3 linked regions of the Homo sapiens genome follow. The protein of the gene in region 2 purifies or fractionates together with the protein of the main gene of each other region. This does not show direct contact. Each region holds a gene or a part of one and is shown on either strand. Other genes may lie near its edges.

What was found.
Region 1: the proteins of PINX1 (region 2) and ZNF346 purify together in Homo sapiens (co-immunoprecipitation; one large-scale study listed by IntAct). This does not show direct contact.
Region 3: the proteins of PINX1 (region 2) and DSTN purify together in Homo sapiens (co-immunoprecipitation; one large-scale study listed by IntAct). This does not show direct contact.

What each region holds. Positions count from the first base shown.
Region 1 is NC_000005.10:177,049,987-177,053,718, reverse strand, and holds part of ZNF346 (zinc finger protein 346), read right to left. Parts: intron 3,017-3,732; coding exon of another isoform or gene 2,969-3,016; coding exon 2,783-2,968; intron 1-2,782.
Region 2 is NC_000008.11:10,829,876-10,833,375, forward strand, and holds part of PINX1 (PIN2/TERF1-interacting telomerase inhibitor 1), read right to left. Parts: intron 3,110-3,500; coding exon 3,017-3,109; intron 1,869-3,016; coding exon 1,790-1,868; intron 1-1,789. UniProt on the Homo sapiens protein: Microtubule-binding protein essential for faithful chromosome segregation. Mediates TRF1 and TERT accumulation in nucleolus and enhances TRF1 binding to telomeres. Inhibits telomerase activity. May inhibit cell proliferation and act as tumor suppressor.
Region 3 is NC_000020.11:17,576,504-17,580,235, reverse strand, and holds part of DSTN (destrin), read right to left. Parts: intron 1-3,732. UniProt on the Homo sapiens protein: Actin-depolymerizing protein. Severs actin filaments (F-actin) and binds to actin monomers (G-actin). Acts in a pH-independent manner.

The sequences.
Region 1 (3,732 bases), on a different chromosome or scaffold from region 2:
TAAAAAGGCAGCAAATATTTTCTCCCAATGAATTCATAGCAAACAAGAACACATGTAAGAAAAACTCATCAAGGTCGATATTTTTTTCCCTCTCTTAACAGTATAATATTCATGAAAACTGAATTTCTTCCAGGTCTTTTAAAATTATCCTTATTGTATTAGAAATGGTCCAGTCAACTTTAAGGAATGTTCATTTTAAAACAGCATTAAAAGTACCAAAATACACAAATACTTTGGGCAAGACTTAAATGCATACTTGATAACAGCAGGCTGGGTGTAACGGCTCATGCCTGTAATCACAGCCCTTTGGGCGGCCAAGGTAGAAGGATGACTTGAACCCAAGAGCTCATGACCAGCTTAGGCAACATACAGAGACCCTGTTTTTTTTTTTTTTTTTTTTTGAGATGAAGTCTTGCTGCTCTTTTGCCAGGCTGGAGTGCAGTGGCGCGATCTTGGATCACTGCAACCTCCACCTCCCGGGTTCAAGCAATTCTCCTGCCTCAGCCTCCTAAGTAGCTGGGACTATAGGCGTGTGTCACCACGTCCAGCTAATTTTTCTATTTTCAGTAGAGACTGGGTTTCACCATATTGGCCAGGATGGTCTCGCCCTCTTGACCTTATGATCCACCTGCCTTGGCCTCCCAAAGTGTTGGGATTATAGGCGTGAGCCACTGCATCCAGCAAGAGACCCTCTTAAAAAAAAAAAAGGTAAAAACAAGGAATTCATCCTTTACCAATGAGTGGTGAATGGATCCTGCAAGTCAGCAGAAGATTTCCATGCTTTCTCTCACTCTACAGATGTTCCTTGACTTACAATGGGGTTACATCTAGATAAACTTATTACCAATTGCTGCCTAGCAGTGCAAGAGAAGTACAGTTTCTACTCAACATCTATTGCTTTCACACCATCGTAAAGTTGAAAAAAATCATAAAGCTGAACCATAGGAAGTTGGGGACCATGTGTACGTGTAGTTTTAGTAGTTTTTCTTAGTACCAGTATCTCCTTAACATAACCACAACCAAAGAATGGGGGAGGCAAAACTTTAATGTAGGGGTCTAAATTCTGCTGATAGGAAGCAACCTTTTCTCTCTCAGGGGTTCACCTTTGTGGAGGTACAAAGTAAGAACTATCAGAACATGAGATTCTGATCTAATCCGCTAAGGGTCCTTGGCCCAAATCTGGCTTGCAGACAGGTCTGACTTACACAGGGTTTAAAAATAGTTTTTTTTTTTTTTGGCTGGGCTTGGTGGCTAATGCCTCTAATCCCACCACTTTGGGAGGTCATGGCGGGTGGATCACTTGAGGTCAGGAGTTCGAGACCAACCTGGCCAACACGGTGAAACTCTTGTCTCTACTAAAAATACAAAAAAAATTAGCCGGAAATTAGCCATGTGGGGTGGCACATAACTGTAATCCCAGCTACTCAGGAGGCTGAGGCATAAGAATCGCTTGAACACAGGAGGCAGACGTTGCAGTGAGGTGAGATGGTGTCATTGTACTCCAGCCTGGGAGACAGAGTGAGACTGTCTCAAAAAAAAAAAAAAATTGTTTTTTTGATACATGTTCTCGCTCTCACTCAGGTTGGAATACAGTGGCACAATCATATCTCACTTTAGCCTTGACCTCCTGGGCTCAAGTTATCCTCCCACCTCAGCCTTCCCAAGGTGCTGGGACTACAGACATGCGCCACATGCCCAGCTAATATTTAAAATTTTTAGTAGAGATGGGATCTCACCATGTTGGCCAGGCTGGTCTTGAACTCTTAGGCTCAAGTGATCCTCCTACCTTGGCATCCCAAAGTGTTTGGATTACAGCATAAGCCACTATGCCTGGCTGGGCTTAAAAATTTTTTAATTTAGTTACACATTTAAAAATCAGAGGGGCCGGGTGCAGTGGCTCACGCCTGTAATCTCAGCACTTTGGGAGGCCGAGGCGGACGGATCACGAGGTCAGGAAATCGAGACCATCCTGCCCAACATGGTGAAACCTTGTCTCTACTAAAAATACAAAAATTAGCCGGGCGTGGTGGTGTGTGCCTGTAGCCCCAGCTACTCGGGAGGCTGAGGCAGGAAAATCGCTTGAACCCAGGAGGTGGAGGCTGCAGTGAGCTGAGATTGCGCCGCTGCACTCCAGCCTGGGTGACAGAGGGAGACTCCATCTCAAAAAACACAAACGCAAAAACAAAAACAGAGGGATTTCTATATAAATCTGGCTTTCCAGAGTCTTTTGAAAACCTGAAAGAGGGCTGGGCGCGGTGGCTCACGCCTGTAATTCTAGCACTTTGGGAGGCCGAGGTGGGCGGATCACAAGGTCAGGAGATCGAGACCATCCTGGCTAACATGGTGAAACCCCGTCTCTACTAAAAATACAAAAAAATTAGCTGGGCATGGTGTCAGGCACCTGTAGTCCCAGCTACTCAGGAGGCTGAGGCAGAAGGATGGCATGAACCTGGGAGGTGGAGCTTGCAGTAAGCCGAGATCGCGCCACTGCACTCCAGCCTGGGTGACAGAGCAAGACTCTGTCTCAAAAAAAAAAAAAAAAAAAAAAGAAAAGAAAACCTGAAAGATATGGTAACAGCTGAGTAGGAATGGCATTCACTCTTCAGCTGACCATATCCCCTTCCTGGCTCTCATTTTAATTTCTCATCTGGCTTCTGTAGCCATCTGAGTTCGCAAACCCTACTTACAAGACCTAAGGAGGAAAAGCACAACGTCAGCTGGTCCGGGTAGCCCCAGTGGCCAAACCCTGGTCCAGCTCTGGGTGTGAGCTAGGCCCCCTCACCTGGAAAGTCAGTGACAGCAGGGTCCGCCAGCCGCCCATAGCGTGCCATTAGTTTGAGCTTGGTCTCCTGTTTTCTGTGTTTCTTGCCCACATAATGTTGTTGAGCCATGACAGGGTCGTTGAAAGTTGCATGGCAGAGGCTGCAGAACTTGTCTGGGTCTATCATCTCTCTATTCTGGTGCAAGGCTAAGGTGGAGGCCACAAGGAAAGGATTTGTAAGGCGTTTTGACAGAGCTGCAGTGAGAGAGTTCAAACAGAAACAATGAAAAAACCCAGAAGGTGTCAGGCTTTTGAGTATGCTGAATAGAAAGGGCTGTGACACCAGTTAATCCTACTGCAGATGTGGCACTGCCTGTGTGAGTCACACAGGTGAATGCATTCTCTAATTGGGAAACCTGGGAAGATTTGAGGGAGCCCAAAGACTGGCTATTTCATTCAGCGGCTTTAACTACTTTAAGCCCACAAATCCTGGTGGTTCTCATATTCTTAGGAGGCCCTGAGCTTCTCCTGTCAGGCTGCCAAGTTACAATAGACTAGAGATGCACACTTGCACTCTTGCAGGGATACCTCAGTACTTCCCAGAACTTCACAGCAAGTGGGACACGAAGTTTGGGAGTTTTATTCTCATCCTTAAAGTAATACAGTTGCAGAGCTGGGAACAAATGCACAGATACAGAAATTGAGGCTTGAGTTCCTGGAGCTCATACAAGGTCATTCAGAAAAGGTAACCATACTAGGGATGCCTTTTAGGCTACATTGCATATTATAGGCTGAGTAGAGAGAAAAGAGGACCATTAACATTTAGTTATGCGTTTTGCTCACATCTGTAATCCTAGCACTTCAGGAGGCCAAGGCAGGCGGATCACGAGGTCAAGAGATTGAGGCCATCCTGGCCAACATGGTGAAACCCTGTCTCTCCTAAAAATTCAAAAATTAGCTGGGCATGGTGG
Region 2 (3,500 bases):
GTTTCTCCATGTTGGTCAGGCTGGTCTCAAACTCCCGACCTCAGGTGATCCGCCCGCCTCAGCCTCCCAAAGTGCTGGTATTACACCGTGCCCAGCCAAGCTTACATTCTTATCTGTGTTTCTACTGAGTTCAACTGTGATCGTAAATATCAAGATGTTTTCTGTGTATAATTAGTAAGGAATAGTGTCCTTGAACTTTACTACTTCATAGATCCTGCATTTCCTAATATGAGTCATTCAGTATTTTCAGAAAACATTTTCCTTATCTTTTTCTTCTGCTAATAAATTATTGCCCTTCATATTAGGACCACACACAGAACTGTTAGGTTATTTCAAAATCATGATCCTATGGATAAGGAAAACTGTCCAAGTTATACATTCCAACAAAAAGTCCAATCTGGTTAGAAAAAATACCAACAAAGCACCTTTCCCTTCACACTGTTGGGCTCACTTCCACACACGTCACTGCAATAAACCTTCCTATGGTTAGATGTGTGCTGTGATTTTACCAGGTAATTACCAGCATATTCTGCTAGCTACCTCCAAGCAGGACTGTGTCTTATACCTCTGCAGATCCTCACACCTAAACTAGTACCCAGCACACAGCTCAATAAATGTTTGCTGAACTCAAGTCTAATTCATTATTTCACTCCACAAAATTCTTTCAATCTACCAAATATCTTTTGATTATTCACACATGACACACAAGGAATAGACTGTTCATAAACAAGAATGTTTATAAAAATGCTTGCAGATTACAACAAAATCCAATTAAAAAATGGGCAAAGTACTTAGACACTTCTTCAAAGAAGATATAAAAATGGCCAATAAGCGATGAAAAGATGCTTAACATCAGTCATTAGGGAAATGGAAATCCAAATCACAATGAGACATCATCTCACACCCATTAGGATGGCTATTATCAAAATTATAAAAGATAATTACTGGTTAGGATATGGAGAAATTGGAACTCTTATGCACTGTTGATGTAGCCACTACAGAAAACAGTACGGCAGCTCCTCAAAAAGTTAAAAATAGAACTACTATATGATCCAGCAATCCACTCCCAGGCATTACCCAAAGGAAAGGAAATCAGCATGTTGCAGAGGTACCTGCAAACCCACGTTCACTGCAGCACTATTCACAACAGCCAAGATATGGAATCAACCTAAGTGTCCACCAACACATGAACTGGGAAACATGTGGTGCATACACACCACGGAATACTATTTACCCTTACGAAAGAATGAGAGTTTTTCATTTGAGGCAACATGGTTGAGTTTGGAGGACATTAAGTGAAATAAGCCAGGCACAGATAAATATCACATATTCTCGTTCATATGGAAAAGCTAAAAGAGTTGAGCTCATAAAAGTAGACAGCAGAATAGTGGTTATTAGAGCTGCGTAAGGAAAACAGCTATGTAGGAACAGCTAAAGATTGGCTAATGGATATAAAAGTCCCACTACATAAGAGGAAAAAGCTCTAGTGTTCTATAGCACTGTAGGGTGACTATAATAAATAATATTTTATTTTATATTTTCAAATAGCTAGAAGAACAGATTTTAAATGCTCCCAACACAAATAATAAATGTCTGAAGTGATATATATGCTAATTACGTTGATGAACATAACACATGTGTACATTACAAATTGTGCACAGGTATTGACATATCACACTATACTCAATAAATATGTATAATTATGTGTCAACTAAAAATAATAAAAGCAAAAAACAAAAAGTAGATAAACATATTTGCATTGAGAACTTATGTCATCTGATTTCCCTACCTGTGGTTTCCTGCCCATGGCAAGTGTTCAGTTCGGCCAGAAGCTGGTTAAAATCATCCTGATGGGCAATCCAGTTGTCCTGAAAATATCAAAGAAATGAACGAGAGGTAAGCCTGTAGTTTACTTACACTGACTGAGATGATACATTTTGGAATCAAGGAAATCCAGTGGTTAATTAAGAAATTTTAAATGTTCCATCAAAATACTATTTGATAAATTTAAGTGGATTCAAGAAATAATATAAAGTTAAAATGCTCTTTATCCAGGTCAATATTAAAAAGGGGCTTCCTGGAAGCTTAAGGCCTGATTTCAAATGTGAATGACTTATCGATCAAGTCAATATATAGTAAATAATCAACAGGCAACCTGTGTGCTAAATGTTAAAGTAAAACATAATGAAATGACTATTTTTTTCTCACTAGGGGAAATTCCATAGTTGAAAGGACAAGAACCATGCGGGACAAAAAAATGCTCTTCTTTGCTTGGTAGAATTAAAATCTTCTAATGACTTGCATCAACTCCAATTTTACAAAACTCTGAGGAAGGGGAGGAGGAAGAACCTTAAGTCCCCTGAATCGATGAGTTCCCATTTGTAAGGTGGTTACCTAATAAGTTTATTATAAAAAAATGAACCTGGCTTTTATAAGAGAATGAAGATCTCCCAAACCAGTGGGAAGCAGGGTTTCAGTGTACGAATCTGCCTTACTCACATTCTTAGCAATTTTTAAGAATGCTTAAGGTAAAGGAATATGAAATAGGTTTACTGGGCAATGCTTCTTCTAAGAAAATAAGTATATCTGTGTTATCTATCCCTCAACAACTACATTTGAAATCAACTTTATATAAACTCTTTCTTTAGTGGCTAAAAATTTTAGCTCCGCCAATCCACTACTCAGAGATACGGAACTAACCAAAGTAATTCAATTTACCTAAAGTAATTTCCCAGATTCCCTACCAGATTATGTTGGCTGCAAAAACTTAGAAACAAAACTTTTCAGTTTAGATCCTTTCCAAAAGGGAACAATGATACTAAAAATAAAAAGCGCGGTAGGCCACTGACTCTGAGTTATAGTGCCATGCATTCAAAGCGTCAGTGTTCAAGAGGAAACGTGAATAAAAAGAAGTGCTGCACCAATGGTCAGAAGCAGATGAACCAATCAACTTTCAGATTTACAAGACTGAAGCCAATTATGCAAAGACACCCAGGAGGCACACACTGCTGCTCACTTCATTATTGATGGTAGCTCCGAGTCCCAGGTGGTTATTTTTCACTTGAACTTTAATATGATCTGTGGCTCCTTGCTCCTGAGCCCCTAAACCCTGTGGAGATTAAACACAGAGAGTTAGAACATTCCTCTCACTGATACTCAGAAGCAGAGCACTGCTACAAAACTCACAGATGCCTACGGCAGGTGTTCTGAGTTGATGATTCTCTCCATTAAATACTTTCACAAAGCAACATGGGGGAGGACTCTAAGTCCTCTGCATCAATTAGCACTCATCTGTAAGATTTTCCAGGTAAGGAAAGATCAAGTGCAAAGACCCGAAGGTGGGAAAAAACTCAGTGTACTGGGAAACCTCAGAGGCACCCAGGGTGGCTTCTGCAAATTAAGGAATGAAGGAAGTAGGATGACGGAGGGGCTAGATCTCACATAACCTACGGGAGGAATTTGGATTTTATTTTAAAGACAATGGAAAACCACTGGTCTTT
Region 3 (3,732 bases), on a different chromosome or scaffold from region 2:
ATTAATTACTCCAGGAAAAATATAACTAAGAGTGTAAAATGATATTTTTACATCAAGAATCAAGTCACTTGAAAATTCAAATTAAAAAGTTGATTATATACAATGATTCCAAGTAAAATAATATTAAAGAAAGAATAAAACTATTGAAACACATTCTAATGCACTCCTCCAACTCTTTTCATTTGCTCTACAACTACTGAGGCACACACTGGTGTCATCAGAATATAAAGATGAATACAGGATATAAAGATGAACAAAACTTTGAACTATTCTAAAGATATATCCAGTTGGGTAGAGATAACAGATATAAGAAAGAATCCTATATATGATTAATGCTGCACCAGCAGCAAGCTCTCCATGCATTGACAGCCCAGGAAATGAGTGATTCTGTATGAGACATGATGACAAAAGGGAGGTGTCATGTCAGGCAGGTCTTCCTAGAGCTGGCCCTTGAAGGATAAACTGCCTTTTGATTAGTCAGGCAGGAATCCCTTTTTAATGAGTTAAATAAATGATTCTGGCTTCTTCCACTTGGATAGCAAGTAATAACAAAAGACTATTTACCTAATTAGATCTAAGCTTGCCACCATTTATTTTAGCTAACACTGATAAACTGATAAGCACTTTACTACCTGCCACTGCTTTTTTTGGGGGGATCAGGGTCTTGCTCTGTCGTCCAGGCTGAGGTGCAGTGGTGCAACCTTGGTTCACTGCAGCCTGAAGCTCCTGGGCTCAAGCAATCCTCTCACCTCAGCCTCCCAAGTAGCTGGGACCACAGGCATGCGCTGCCACACCTAGCTTTCCTTTTTTTTTTGGTATTTTATGTAGAGACTGGGTTTTGTCATGTTGCTCAGGCCGGTCTCGAACTCGTAAGCTCAAGCGATCTGCCTGCTTTGGCCTCCCAATGTGCTAGGATTACAGGCATGAGCCTCCACACCTGGCCTGTGCCACTGCTTTAAACTAGTTACATGCATCATTCATACTGTTGTGGTGGTAGGTACTATTATTATTCCCACTTGGAAGAATGGTGAAATTGAGGCACAGAATGTGTCAGGAACTTACCAAAGGTCATACAGTTAGTGCAAGTGGCAGAGTCAAGATTTAAAAAAACCCAGCAGCCAGACACTGAGCACATGCTTTTAATGTGGCAGTACAGTTTAACACAAATAATATCTATCTCAATGAACTGCTATAAGGGTTGAATGAGATAAGGTAAATACTTATAAGTTAATGTAAGACAGCATTACTTCTTGCTTTTTTTTTTTTTTTTTTTTGAGATGGAATTTCGCTCTTGTTGTCCAGGCTGGAGTGCAATGGTGGGATCTTGGCTCACTGCCACCTGCACCTCCCAAGTCCAAGTGATTCTCCTGCCTCAGCCTCCCAAGTAGCTGGGATTACAGGCATGAGCCACCACACCCGGCTAATTTTGTATTTTTAGCAGAGGAGGGGGTTTCAGCACATTGGTCAGGCTGGTTTCGAACTCCCGACCTCAAGCGACCCACCCACCTTGGCCTCCCGAAGTGCTGGGATAACAGGCGTGAGCCACCACGCCCGGCCACTTCTTGCTCTTTCATTTGTTAGGCTTTTGAGCGCTTTTCTATGGTTCAGGATGCCTCAATGAGCATGAAATTCCACGGTTTCATTTTTAAGGAAAGAAAGGAAACTGGCATTTATTGAGGACTTTCAATATGCCACAATCACTTTAAAGGTATTACTCTAATAACTGCCTTAACTATCTTGAAGGATTTTTACTTGTAAGACTCAAAGTAAATTATCATGCAGTATACAAAGGGGAGGTACTATTCAATTAATTCAATACTTAAAACCCAATTTCCATTACATTAAAAAAGGTATGTGGGAATAGAAGGTATAAAAATTAAAGGACTCCACCTCCATGGGAACCTGTCCTTTGTCATAATTAAGAATACCCTCTCCCATTCACTCATTCATGTTCATTCAGTAACATCTATGTGGGCCTACTATGAGAGTGGTATCTTGCTACTGGAATGTACGATCCCCATCTTAAAAGAGCTCAATAGTCTAGTTTCATAAAACATCTTAAGTCCTATAAAGAAATTCATATGCTATCTCAGCATCGTTTCTTGGACATGTGCAGAAATGCAGAGAATTTAGTTGGTACACACACCAACTTCCCATTACAAATTAAGTAGGCCAACTCACAAAGTCTTAGGTTGGTCCAATAAAGTGGCCACTAGCCACATGTGACTTAACGAGTCCTTTAAATGTGGCTAGTGTGACTGAGGAACTGTATTTTCATTTAATTTTAATTAACTTAAATTCTAAAAATTTATTCTTATCCATTACTGGAAAACTTGTAAGTAGGTCTGGAGCAACTTGAGTATATGAATCTACTTTTTCAAATGTAAATTTTATCATATCTAAATACAGATCAAGTATTTCCAATGAAAATTTAGCACCTGAATTGACACGTGCTTTCAGTGTAAAATATATACTGGATTTCAAACAATTTATATGTAAAATTTCTCAATTTTTAAAAATATTACTAGAAAAGTTAAAAGTATATTAAAATATTACTAGAAAAGTTAAAAGTATATACATAGCTTGTATTTTCTTTCCATTTGACAACACTGGCCTAAAGATGAAATATTCTTATAACTAGAGTATTCCTCTAAAGATTTTTTTTTTTTGAGACAGGGTCTTGCTTTGTTGCCCAGGCTGGAGTGCAGTGGCGTGATCTCGGTTCACCACAACCTCCGCCTCCCAGGTTCAAGCAATTCTCCCGCCTCAACCTCTCAAGTAGCTGGGACTACATGCACCTGCCACCATGCCTGGCTAATTTTGTATTTTTAGTAGAGATGGGGTTTCTCCATGTTGGTCAGGCTGCAGATTCTTACAATGATTTGAGAATTCCTCAAAACTCCTGAGCTTCAACAACTGACTTCAAAGATTGCTCCAGGGCAAGTTGGAGAAGCCTTACCTGTATTTGCCTGTGCTGTGCTTTAGTGTTAGTTCTATTACTACAGGTTAAGTACCTTCCGGTACCAAGCATTTGATTTCAGATATTTTCAAATTTTGGAATATTTGCATATACATAATGAGATAGCTTGGGAATAGGACCCAAGTCCAAACACAAAATTCATTTGTGTTTCATATACACTTTATACCCATAGCCTGAAAATTATTTTATATGATATTTTAAATAATTCTATGTGTGAAAGTTTTGTCTGCATTTTGACTTGTCGCATGAGGTGAGATGTAGAATTTTCCATATGTTGGTGTTCAAAAAGTTTGGGATTTTAGAGAATTTTGGATTTTTAGATTAGGGATGCTCCACCTGTACATGAAAATAGCAACAGAAAAGTTGTGAAACCATTTTAAAATAAACACTAATTACATTTACAAGCTATTTTCTGAAAGCAAGCCAAGATAGAAACAAGGGTAGGAAATTCATCCTTGCTTTCCTGTGAGAAGGCAAACAGAAATAACAACCTATGAAGTAATGTAAAAATGTTCAAAGGAGTAAACAATCTTCCTTTGATGTGATCCAAAAGCACAAACACAATGACAAATGACCTTCCAGGTGTAGAATGAACTTAAGTTTCTATCTTTCAAGCACTCATCTATGCCGTGCTGCAACAGACGTTCTCAGTCTTTTCACACCTTCAATTAGAGATTACTTTGTTAATTTTAAAACTTTAATTGCATTTTTTACTGAAATCAATTGCTTTTAAAAAATCTACGTATGATGTG